Regions from separate parts of the Homo sapiens genome. Here all the other regions are reported to be linked to region 1. The links are microRNA targets in miRTarBase. Many come from high-throughput screens and were not tested one by one. Region 1 holds a microRNA gene; each other region holds the end of a gene's coding sequence.
What was found. The annotated mature microRNA hsa-miR-1-3p reads UGGAAUGUAAAGAAGUAUGUAU and lies in region 1 at 2,515-2,536, shown strand. An mRNA with a match to its seed (bases 2 to 7 or 8) in the 3' UTR can be bound and repressed. Matches are read on the target gene's strand: a 7mer-m8 pairs with bases 2 to 8, a 7mer-A1 pairs with bases 2 to 7 and ends in A, and an 8mer does both.

Region 1 (4,198 bases):
TTTTTGAAAAGTGACTACAATTCATTTGTGAGTGGGCAGAAGTCCTGTGGACTCTGGCTGGGTCTGGGGTGACTCTCCTGCCCTTTGGGACTCCCAGCTTTCCCCTTGACCCCCAGACCCCGTCCAGATGAATGCCTCACAGGTCGTGGGGGCTTGAGCCAGGCTGCGGGAGTGTCCCAGGCTCTGAGAGCTCATGTGCCAGGGAGCTGGGGACGTTGAGGAGGCCTTTTCCCTGGACTCCGGGGACGGTTATTGCGGAGGTCTTGGGAGGGCACAGATGAGCGGCGGAACCCAGGTGCCCCCGAAGTTGAAGCTCAGGCTGCGGTGTCGGGTGCCCTTTTTGTATCCTTGGCTACGTGAAAATGATAAATCACAGCAGCTACGTGGAAATGGGACATCAGCTTCTGCTTCTGTCTGCCATTTGCTCCTTCCTTTGTAGAGGGGATGCCTCCAGAGCCTTAAGCACAACCCCCACCCCCCGCCCCCACCCACCCCCACGTGAAACTCCAACCCAGCCATGCCCAGCTGCAGACCCACTGCCACACAGCCACAGCATGCTCAGTGGCCTCTGCACACTGCAGGCTCTGCGGAGACATTGCCCTGCCCTGGGTGGTAAGAGAGAACCAACTCGCTCCGGGCTGTCCCCTCGCATGGACGGGCTGCCTGGAGGAGCAACAGAGTCATGTTGGACCTCTCTTCCTGATGAGGACAACGGGAGGTCCTTTCATGTCCCGGGGCTGCTGTCCCACCCCACGCCAGGGTCAGTGGCAGGACAGGGGCCAGGGCCCAGCTGGACCCCACCGCTTAGCAAGCCTCCTGTGTCTGTGCCCGGCCTGCACCCCCAACTGGCGCCTCCCTGGCCCCCGTCCCCCCCAGGCACCTGCAAAGCCTTCTTTCCACCTCTCACCACCGCACGTGCCAGGCTCGCCCTGGGCCACTGCGAGGCCTCGAAACCCTGCAGGCCTCCTCCTCCTCCTCCTCCTCCTCTCCCCGCTCCCAGCAGGTTCGGGGCGGCTTCCCTTCCTGCTGGTGAGGGCCTAACCTTGAGGTCCCATTGGTCTCCTTCTGGCTCTTTCTCCACATTTTTCAGAGTCTGGCTTCACGGCTGGTCATAGAAGTTGGCAGGGAAGGAGGCAGCCTCTGCTTCCCACTCAGAGACATTTTTAAACGCAATGAAAAACATATCGATACAATTAAGTATTCCAAAGTGCTTAGTTTGCCACTCGCTAAGTTTACTTAAACCCTCTTTAACAGGCTCATTAGGAGCTGGTGAGCACCGGGAAATTCATTAACAGGAAGGCGGCCCCCTGCATTTGACTGTAAATTGGTATTGATCAGGGGCTGGTGGAGGCTGGGCGGCTGGCCACAAAGAGCCAGGTGTGGGACCAGCCTCCCGGGGGTGCCACGGCAGTGGCGCTGGGCAGGTGACGGTGGCTGCTGACCCCCGGTGCCCATGTAAGCTGCTGGCTCTGCGCAGCTGCCGCTTCAGGTGGGCCGCACTGCGCGGCGGTTCAGGGTGGTGACGCTGCGAGGCGGGGACGGGGGAGAGGGTGAAGAAGAGCGAGAGAAGGAGGGAGAGAACCGGGGGAGCGACGCTCCCTCGCCCACTGGGTGTCTGCTGTGGCCAGGCTGAGGCACCTAGGGAGTTGCCCCCCTAGTGGACGGCCTCTCAGGAGATCCTGACCACCCTCTGGGAACCTGGACTCCTCCAAGCATCGTCTTTCTCGCCTGCATCTTCGGAGAGAGGTGCTGAGCCCTTCCTCATGGATACGGGGTCCCGGGAGGCAGCCTTCACCAGGGACCTGCCCAGGAAACCAGCAGATGCCCAGGTAAGCCCCCAGGACACCTCTCGGGTCTCTGGTCTGCAGTTCCTCGTCTGGCCTCAGGAGCAAGGAGTTGTCCAGCTCCCGGAGAAGGAGGAGGCTGGTCCTGCGAGTGGGGTGCTGGGCAGGGCGCCCCCCAAGGTTCCTCTCTCCACCCAGCCCTCTCTGGGCTTGGCTGGGATGAGGTGACCCAGGGGGACAGGAAAGTGTTGGCTTTGAAAGTTTGGGACATGGATGATGCCTCCCTGCTCTGGGGTGAGGGTGGAGGGGCAGCCTGTCTCTTCCATGGACGCAAAACCGAGCTACTGCTGGGGCCAGGGACAGGCGCTCGAGACTTTCTGGGGCTCACTGTCCACTTCTGCCTTTCTGGATCGTGTGAGTGTGTGAGACAGACAGAGAGAGATGGATTCAGGGATGGAGGGGCGCCGAGGTCAGAAGGGGGCAGGGAGTCCTGGGCCCCTGGGGGTGGCTGGACACCAGGCAGCAGTGGCAGGAAGGCTGTCCTGCTCACACAGAGAGGGCTCCGGCAGTAGACTCCAGGGAAGAAGTTACACTGCCTCTGAGCTGCCTTCTCTACATCGCAGTGGGGTCAGCTTCTACCGGGGCGGCGTCCCGGGGTCTTGGAACTGCATGCAGACTGCCTGCTTGGGAAACATACTTCTTTATATGCCCATATGGACCTGCTAAGCTATGGAATGTAAAGAAGTATGTATCTCAGGCCGGGACCTCTCTCGCCGCACTGAGGGGCACTCCACACCACGGGGGCCGCCGCGGCCGACAGCCAGCCAGGCGGCTGTGGTGGGGGTGAGGCTGGGGCGGCAGGCTGCCTGGGCGTTGGTGGACGGTCGTGTCCCCGCCAGCATTGTTCTGTCACTTTGCCTGTGTCAGCAGGTGGAAGTGCTCACCAGACATTAAATATTCAGCTTGCTGACTGCGGCAGAGGGGAGGCGGCCTCCGGCAGGCGCGGGGTCCAGCGCGGGGCTGGTGAGGGCTGGGGGGTCGGGGCCGTGGCTGGAAAGCACGGAGTGGTGGCGGCGGCTCTGGGGGCTCCACTGATGGCCATCCTGGAAGAGGCCATCAGCCGGCAGAAAGGGCCACGTGTGGCCAGGGCAGAAACTGCTCAGAGGCACAAGACAAGAGCGAGTTTGGAAAAGGGCAGGTGGCTGGATGCAGAAAGGAGGGAGAGGCTGGGCAGCACATGGTAGAGTCTGCGGAGGGAAGGCACCTCCTGCACCTGCATCCAGCCCTCCCGGCTGTAGGGCAAGGCAGAGGAACTCGGAGGCATGTAGCCTCCAAGGAAGGCGCAGCCCACACGAGATGCTGGGGACGCGGGCAGGGTCAGGGCCACCACTGCCCTTAGGCCCCACTCCTCTGCCGAGGGCACCTGGGACAGGGTCAGAGGAGCTGAGTCTGTGCAGCCCTGAACCCACAGCCCACCCCAGGGGCCTGGGAGCCGTTCGATTTTGCCAAATGTCTGGTTCATGCCGCCCCAACCTGTACCCCCACCAAAGCCCCGGTTCAGCTTTCTCTCTGTTCCGCCGAATCCAACCTGAGGCATGTTTTGCTGTGAATGCAGGTGAGGCTTTGGCAGAAAGCAGCGTGTGGCCCAGGGCCCCTTGCCCCACCTGTCGGGGGCCTGAGAGCCATCTGCTCTGCCGCCATCCCAGTCCTGACCCGAGAAAGGACTGGGAGGATGTCCTGGGGCCCAGGGGATGAGGGCAGGTCCGGATCCGTCCGTGAAACCCTTTTCCCCAGTGCTGGTCCTTCAAGGAGAGGATGGGCGGCGGGTTCTGGGGTCTTAGGCAGCGGCTGGGCTGCTGTGTGAGGGGCGTTTGCCCGGCTCGTTTCTGAGTCTCAGATTGGAGGCGTTTGCCACCTGGGATGAGGCCAGGTCCCTGCCTGGGCACCCCCACCCTGCCACAGGCCTCAGGATTAATTTCTGGGGTGTGTGTCCTCTCTGCCTTGGCACTGCTCCAGCCACAGCGGTGCCCCTGTGCCCTACCTCCCGCACCCTGGCCTTCGGCAGGAATGAGGCGGGAAGGGACAGGCAGGCAGCCCCCTCCTGCAGCGGCTGGAGGCCTTGGGTCTGGGGGCAGCCAGGTCACCTGAGCAGCTGGGGCCAGCATAGGGAGCGCTGGATAAAGGGATTGGGGGCCGTTCTGAGCTTTCAGGTGGCTCCCACCCCTCAGGGAGCCTCGAGGTGACTGGAGGGGAGGGCCTGGCAGTCAGGGCTCCTGGCCTTCAGGTCTTCCTTCTGGAAACTTCGTTCTCCCAGCCTCAGCCCCATCTGGCGTAGCAGCAAGGGGGCGGGTGTTGACCTCGGGCACAGCCTCCTCTCGGCCTCTGGACCCGGAGGGTCAGTGCCCAGCATCCGC
Region 2 (4,000 bases), not on the chromosome of region 1:
AAAGACAGGCAGGGACCAGGCTGCCTCCACAGCCACCCTATCCTTGGCACAGCCAGGACTCTCAAGGCTTTATTGGAGCTTGGTGCCAGCTCCTGCCCATAGGGCAGCCCCGTGCCACATCTCACCAAGCCCCAGCTGCTGTTCTCTTGTCTGATTTCCTCCAACCTCCCGCAGACCAGTTCAAGGAGCTGATCCTCACACTGTGCGATCTCATCCGCCGAGGCCAGCTCACAGCCCCTGCCTGCTCCCAGGTCCCGCTGCAGGACTACCAGTCTGCCTTGGAAGCCTCCATGAAGCCCTTCATATCTTCAAAGCAGATTCTCACCATGTGATCATCCCAAAAGAGCTGGAGTGACATGGGAGGGGAGGCGGATCTGAGGGGCTGGGTGCAGGCCCCTCAGTTGGGGCTCCCACCTTCCCCAGACTACTGTTCTCCTCACTGCCTCTTCCTATTAGGAGGATGGTGAAGCCAGCCACGGTTTTCCCCAGGGCCAGCCTTAAGGTATCTAATAAAGTCTGAACTCTCCCTTCCAAAAAGTAGAAGTCATCCCTGTCGAGAAGGACCAACACTGTGCACTGGTCAGCTCACAGCACCAAGAGGCCCCCTTCCTGCTTTTCTGTCATGTGTTCCCCCAGTAATCATTTTCTGACCACCCTGAAAGCAAAGCCTGGGTGGGTACTGGCAGTGCAAAGGCCAGTAGGCCACCATCCCTGGCCCCAAGCTGCACAAGCCCACAGACGAGGGTCCTGTAGAACAAACGCTTTGATGTGCTTCTCAGGTAGCCTGCGGCCCAGTCCAGGGCTTGGGGAGGATCAGCTGCATGGAAGAGTGAATGCCAGGCTGAGGTCATCAGGGCCCTGAGGAACTTGGACGTGGGGTCTTCACTCTCATGGAACTGCCCTTCTAACTGGAGACATAGACAATATACCAGTGGTTCTCAACCAGAGGCAATTTTACCCCCAGGAGACATTTGACAATGTCTGGGGATATTTCTGGCTATCACAGCTTATGAAGGAGGTTGCTACTGGCATCTAGCAGGCAGAGTGAGTGCTGCTGTTAAACCCACCACAGGACACAGAACAGTCTACTGCAACAAAGAATTACCCAAGGCCTGGCGCGGTGGCTCACACCTGTAATCCCAGCACTTTGGGAAGCCAAGGCAAGCGGATCACTTGAGCCCAGGAGTTCAAGGTCAACCTAGGTAACGTGGTGAAACACCATCTCTACAAAAAATACAAACATTAGCCAGGTATGGTGCTGTGCACCTGTAGTCCCAGCTACTCGGGAGGTTGAGGTGGGAGGATCACCTGAGCCTGGGAGGTCTAGACTGCAGTGAGCCATGATCATGCCACTGCATTCCAGCCTAGGCAACAGAGCAAGACCCTATATCAAAAAAAAAAAAAAAATCTAGCCCCAAATGTTCAATGTTCATGAGGTCGTTGATAAACCGTGCATTAAACAATCTCACAGTAATTACCATAGTGACTAATGCTGTAAAGAAGATATGTGGGGTGCTGTAAGAGCAGAATAAAGATCTTGCCCTAGGCCCCAGGGACAGGGGTATGCTTCCTTGAGGTGAAGTTTGAAGGTGGGCTCTCACAAATGAGTGAGCTTTATTCAGGCCGAGAGAAGAGCTTGACGTGACTTTTTGGTATTTGCTTCACGATTCATTTGCTCAAAGCAAAGAACAGAGGCTTCAGGGTGTCTCCCTTATCACCTGGCCCTCTGTACCCTGCACTCAGGAGCCTCATTCAGGACGTATTTATTGAGTGCCTAGTGTGTGCCCAAAGCTAAGGATACCAATGAAAGAAGTGCTGCTGGCCCTCAGGTTGCTTAGCCTAGTGCAAGATTGACCAGTATAGTATAATGATGAGGTCACTGACATGGAGGTGTTCAGAGGGCCTTGAGAGGACACACAGGGGCCCCAGTTCTGCCCGAGGGCATCAAGGAAGGATTCCTAGAGGAAGTGTCTCCCACAGCCAGTCTTGAAAACCGAGCAGGAAACTGCGTACCAAGCAAAGCCAACAGCACATGAGAGTTTAGAGGCCTGAGAGCCTGGCACTCAGGGAACTGCAGTCAAGTGTAGCTGCTGCCTTAGACGTGGGGGAAATGTGGGAACTGAGGTGGGAGACATGGGTGAGGTACAGATCACAAAGGACCATGATGTCAGGGCTTACCCTGAAGCCCTAGGGAGGCACCAAGGGATTTTAGGCAGTGGAGCAATATGGAAAAAACTGGCTCGGAATGTTTGTTTTTTTTTTTGAGACGAAGTCTCACACTGTTGCCCTTGCTGGTGTGCAGTGGGCGATCTTGGCTCGCTGCAGCCTCAACCTCCTGGGTTCAAGCGATTCTCCTTCCTCAGCCTCCCGAGTGGCTGGGACTACAGGTGTATGCCACCACACCTGGCTAATTTTTGTATTTTTAGTAGAGATGGGGTTTCACTATGTTGGCCAGGCTGGTCTTGAACTCCTGACCTCGTGATCCACCCACCTCGGCCTCCCAAAGTGCTGGGTTTACAGGCGTAAGCCACCACACCCGGCCAGAAGGTTTAATTGCATGCCAGTTTGAACATGGACTCCCAGCATAATCATCTTTTCTTTGGAAGCATCTTTTATGTCCGCTGGAAAAAAGGACTCAGCTTCAGCCTGGGGCTGGGAAAGGTCTGCATTGCCCTCTGGGGAATATTTGCCACCTTCTGGGCTCAAGATCAGCCCCAACTCTTTCCTGGTCCCTGTCCTCTAGGTTAGTGGGACAAGTGATTGTACAGATGATCAGTGCAGGCAAGTGAAAAAAGCCTTAGAAGGAGGGAAGGCTGCCAGAGGCCACAGGAGTAAAATTAAGATTAGGTTCTTTAGGCCAGGTGAGGTGTCTCACACCTATAATTAGACAGGCGTGCTGGTACATGCCTGTAGTCCCAGCTACTCAGGAGGCTGAGGCAGGACAGTCACTTGAACCTGGGAGGCGGAGGTTGCAGTGAGCTGAGATCACGCCACTGCACTTCAGCCTGGGCAAGAGAGAGAGACTCTGTCTCAAAAAAAAAAATAGGATTCTTCAAGGGGAATCCATAAGGTTGGGGTTTAGGGAGAGTGGTGAGCCTGAGTCCTGGTGAAGGAGCAGGCCCCTGGTGCCCACTCTAAGAGCAGGCATACAGGAATGTTTGTAACACCACGCTTCAAGATCTGGAGGAACGTGCAGAATGCCTGAGAACAGTGAAGGCAATGATTCCTTGTACCTTTAGGGGTCTGGAGGTGACATTTGGGCTGGTCTTCAAAGGATGATTATAATTTATTCAGGGAAGGGTGACAAGCATTACAGACGAAGAGAGCAGATTAGGCAGTTACAGAGACAGGGTATTTATGTTAGAACTGTCTCATTTTCTCCATTCTCTTCCTGAGAATTAAAACCTACAACTTTTAGGTGGGTACATGGCAGGCCGGAATAAACACTGTTTCTCTGCATCCCTTGCAGCTAACAAGATCTGCCCCCGCAAGTGATGTAAGCAGAGGTGTTAGGCGTCAGTTTCTTAGGAACCTCTTTTTTTTTTTTTTTTTTTTATTTGGAGAGATGATGGAGTCTTGCTCTGTCACCTACGTTGGAGTGCAGTGGTGCAATCTCGGCTCACTGCAATTTCCACCTCCCAGGTCCAAGTGATTCTCCTGCCTCAGCCTCCCGAGTAGCTGGGATTACCTGCCACCACGCCCAGCTAGTTTTTGTTATTTTTAATAGAAACAGCGTTTCACCATGTTGGACAGGCTGGTCTCGAACTCCTGACCTCAGGTGATCCGCTGGCCTCTGCCTCCCAAAGTGCTGGGATTACAGGTGTAAGCCACTGCGCCCTGCCCAGGAACCTCTTTAAAATATAGCAGGCCTGCATCCTGTACCTTTTTCTTCCCCTTCCCCTTCCACCCTCCTTATAGCTGTGGTACACAGACATGATTCCTGGAGTTTACCCAGCCATCTTTGACTACGGTTTTTTTTTGTTTTGTTTTGTTTTGTTTT
Region 3 (4,000 bases), not on the chromosome of region 1:
TACAAAAAATTAAAAAATAAGAATTTCAGTCAAAGCCAATGATAGGTAAACTCTCCTGACCCATGGAGGCGATGGATCTGTGTGTTAAGCCTTGACCTGCAGCACTGCTTAGTGGATCTCTATTATTGAACAATAACTGTTATAGTGCTGAGGATAGGATAATCCCGTTTTGCCCTTCATTATACCAACGTATAGCACAAAGTAGACAAAGCACTAGGAATGGCCGCTGTTTCTGAAAAGTTACTGAACATGCTCAGTGGTGAAGAAGGATTGAAATATTGCAGCATAGGCAGATTTCAGGAAGATGTCTTACAGAAATTTTGTTACATTACCCCAGGCTACTGCACTTTACATATTTGAAGGACAACACATTATATTAAGCGAAGGAAAATTGATTTAACTGCTGGCCTCTGAAAAATTCTCTTTTCTCCTACCAGGTTCTACACATGTTTTAACACCCAAAAAGCTGTTGGATGATATAAAGATGCTGAATAAACCCAAGGATAAAGTCTCCTTAATTAAAGATGAATAGCATTTCTTTTTGGAGGGTTTAGAGATTCTTACTAATATGTTGAACTAAAATAGAAAGAAAATGTTGCTGTCATGTAATTTAAACAATGTAAATATTTTATGGAATAATGGCTTTTCAAATACATTTCTTAAGGAACTGTTTATGATTATTACTGGATTTGTCATTTTTGATAATTTAAATATTGCTGCTGCTTTGTAGATGATGAGAAGAAATGTTAAAGTGCTTTCTAAAAGGAAATTTTTTCACCTTTGGAGGAGAATATATTAGAGTTGTGGGTAATTTTTCACAGCCACCTATGTACATACTAATTACCCATTGGATACTTATATCTAAAAGTCTCATGCTGAAGTATAGTTTTTGGGAAAGAATGATTTTAAATAAAGAGATTGTAAAAGTAAAAAACTGTAAATGTATATGTATGATAGAATTGTTTCCTCTAAGTGTAGTTTTTCTTTCAACTAAAATTCAGTTTATGTGTAAAATAATTCAGTCATTAATAGAAATGGAGTGATTTCACAGTGTGTACTGTTTTGCCACATACTTCTAAAGAACACAATTTTATATAATTTTGAAATCATGTATGTTTAAATTAGAAAACCAAAAATCATGAACATTCTAAGAGAAAATAAATATAGAATTTAAAAAATTATTCTGGTTTGTGTTTTCTGTAGGGGAGAGGGGAAAGTTACAAATTTTAAAAGTTCTAAATTAGAGTAACAAAGAAGAAAAGGAATCTACCGTAATATTCCCACCAAGATAACTCCTAATGACTTTTTCAAAAATAACGTAATCTCTATATAGGGTTAGATAATATATGTCTGCAGATGTGTTTTGTTAAACAAAGGGAACATCTTTGTTTCAAATCTCTTCTTTTACTTGCCCTCATAGTGTTCTGTCATATGGCAGACCATAGTTTTATTGATTCAGAGTTTTGCTCTTATAAATAATGCTGCGTTGTTTGGGTACATACCTTTGCAGACTTACACAGACATTTCCATAATGTAAATTCCTAGCAGTGGTCAAGGGATTTGTGCATTTAAATATTGATGGATATCCATTTTTAATTTTTATTTAAGTAAATCCATCGCTTTTCCATTTTGGCTTCTGAATTTCACATGCTACTTAGAAATACCTTCCACACTCCAGGATTATAAATTTTTGATAGATTCATTCTATTTTTTTACAGGTAACTCACCCATCTGGAATTGATTTTAGTGTAAGAATGTGTGCTAGATATTGTCTCTTAGTACTTGGCATGACGTCCCATGCCTCCTTACCCCATACCACAGGGGATGAAAGGCTAAACATGAAGTTTTTCAGGTTCTAGGATAAGTAAGGTCTGAACAGTTTATATTCTACCAATGATGTGCACTTGGTCAAGATTTGGAGGCAGAGGCCATCTACTATGCCAGTAAGCAATCTCCCGCAGACAGGAATTGTTTGTAGCAACCAGACTCCACATTTTAGTGTCTTGTCGCCTGCTTCGTGGGTATGAGTTAATGCTGTGGCAGCAGCACTAGCTTCCTGTCCTTTGGGTCACAGATGGTAAAATGATCGTGGGTCTCCAGTTTCTGCTCCTACTGCTTTTTCAGTGATTTTTGTAACGACCTAATTCTCTGTATTAAATGCCTTTCTGCTTGAAATATCTAGAGAAGTTTGTTTCCTGCACAGAACCCTGACTTGATGGAGTATTTCATAGTGGTCCAGCTTCACTCCTTTCTAAACAGCCAGATGTTATACCAGATCCTATTGGATAATCTCTCTTTCCCCAACTAATCTGAAATACCACCATTATCATAGACTAAATTTCCATTTGTATTGTGGTCTATTTCTGGATTCTCTTTTAATGACCTACAGTTTGTTTTGTATTTCTTTTTCCCTATTTCAATTCATGGTATGTTTCAATATGTAGTGGAAGAAGTTCCTATTCAATCCACCTAAATTACTATTATTTTTCAGAAATTTTCTATCAGATTTTTCTAGATGAATTTTAGTATCCTTTTGTTGAGTTCCCAAAAAAAGCCATTTTGGTATTTTCATAGGATTTGCATTGTTCCTAGGTTAACTTAGGAAAAATCAACATCTTTTATAATATTGAAACTTTGATATTCAGGAATGTGAAATGTCTTTTCATTTAAATCTTCATAACCTTCAGAATCTTCATTTTCTTCATATAGTTACTGCACATTGTCAAAATATTTTTGTAGTTCCTTTGTGGGTTGAATCTTCTACTATTTTCAAATGGTTTTTTACACATAGAAATTTATTTATTTTTTTTTAAATAGAGACAGGGTCTTGCTATGTTACCCAGGCTGGAGTGCAGTCATGTGATCATAGCTCACTGGAATTTTGAACTCCTGGGCGATAGTGATCTTCCTGCCTCAGCCTCCCAAGTAGCCAGGACTACAGGTATGGGCCACCACATATGGCTAATTTTTGGGTTTTTTTGTTTTTGTTTTTGTTTTTTTGTATAGACAGTCTCACTGTGTTGCCCTGGCTGGTCTCAAACTCCTGGGCTTAAGCAATCCTCCTTCTCAGCCTCCCAAAGTGTGGGGATTACAGGTGTGAGCCATTGTGCCTGGCCAACTTTTGATATGTTAATCTTACAACTTTACTAAGTATTGATAATAAAGTAATAATATACAAATGCTTACTTAGTGCTTTCTATTATTAATTCATTCCATCTTCTCGTGTATTCCTGTGAGCATAGGTACTGTGATTATCATCTTTATTTTAAAGCTGAGGAAACCGACACAAAGAGATGGATGTAACTTGGTGTGGATGAGTGCATGGAAAGGAAGGGCCTGGCACAATAAACAGCCCTCTTTGCAAACTACGCATGAAAACAATATATCTCCAGTAAGAGGATTAGTTTTTGGTGTCTGCATTTTATCTGAGATCTTTGTGTGCCTCAGTAACTCCCTCTCCAGGGTCAGAACATGTGTGGAATAGGTATTTAGATTAATCCAATGGCCTGGAACAAATGGAACTAAGAGTGTGATGACAGCAAACACTGGACTGTTTATTCATTTGATCACTTGACATCTCAGTGACCACTTTACCCTGATCACACTGATATCGGATGTTTTGAGTCCTGTATTTCACATATATGTTAAGCTTTGAATTGCAGAGACCCTTTGTTTACAAAATCTCTTATGAATTTGAAGCCATAAGACGTCATCTCACATAAATTCCTTGTATAAGCTGATTTTTTTTCCCCCATAGAATTAGCAATTACAGGCCAAAGCAGGAGGATCACTTGAGCCCAGGAGTTTGAGACGAGCCTGAGCAACATAGTGAGACCACATCTTTTTTTTTTTTTTTTCGTTCTATGAATATTCCAAAAGTGAGACCACATCTTTACAAAAAAAGGAAAAAAAAAAAAGCTGGGTGTGGTGACACGTACCTGTGATCCCAGCTACTACTCAAGAGGCTGAGGCAGGAGGATTGCTTGAACCAAGGAGGTGG

Region 2: the mRNA of MECR is a reported target of hsa-miR-1-3p. Seed matches in the 3' UTR shown: 7mer-A1 at 1,356-1,362.
Region 3: the mRNA of STXBP3 is a reported target of hsa-miR-1-3p. The part of its 3' UTR that is shown has no 7-base or 8-base seed match.

Annotation. Positions count from the first base shown.
Region 1 is chr20:62,551,837-62,556,034 of GRCh38, forward strand. It overlaps MIR1-1 (microRNA 1-1), which reads left to right and starts at 2,470; the gene lies at 2,470-2,540. It overlaps MIR1-1HG (MIR1-1 host gene), which reads left to right. Exons shown (of 4, transcript NR_171007.1): 2 at 1,629-1,829.
Region 2 is chr1:29,190,354-29,194,353 of GRCh38, reverse strand. It overlaps MECR (mitochondrial trans-2-enoyl-CoA reductase), which reads left to right. Exons shown (of 10, transcript NM_016011.5): 10 at 175-1,697. The coding sequence ends at 332. Among named protein-coding and RNA genes, the nearest start is that of SRSF4, 10 kb to the right of the region's middle.
Region 3 is chr1:108,808,346-108,812,345 of GRCh38, forward strand. STXBP3 (syntaxin binding protein 3) reads left to right here. Exons shown (of 19, transcript NM_007269.4): 19 at 438-1,178. The coding sequence ends at 532. Among named protein-coding and RNA genes, the nearest start is that of AKNAD1, 47 kb to the right of the region's middle.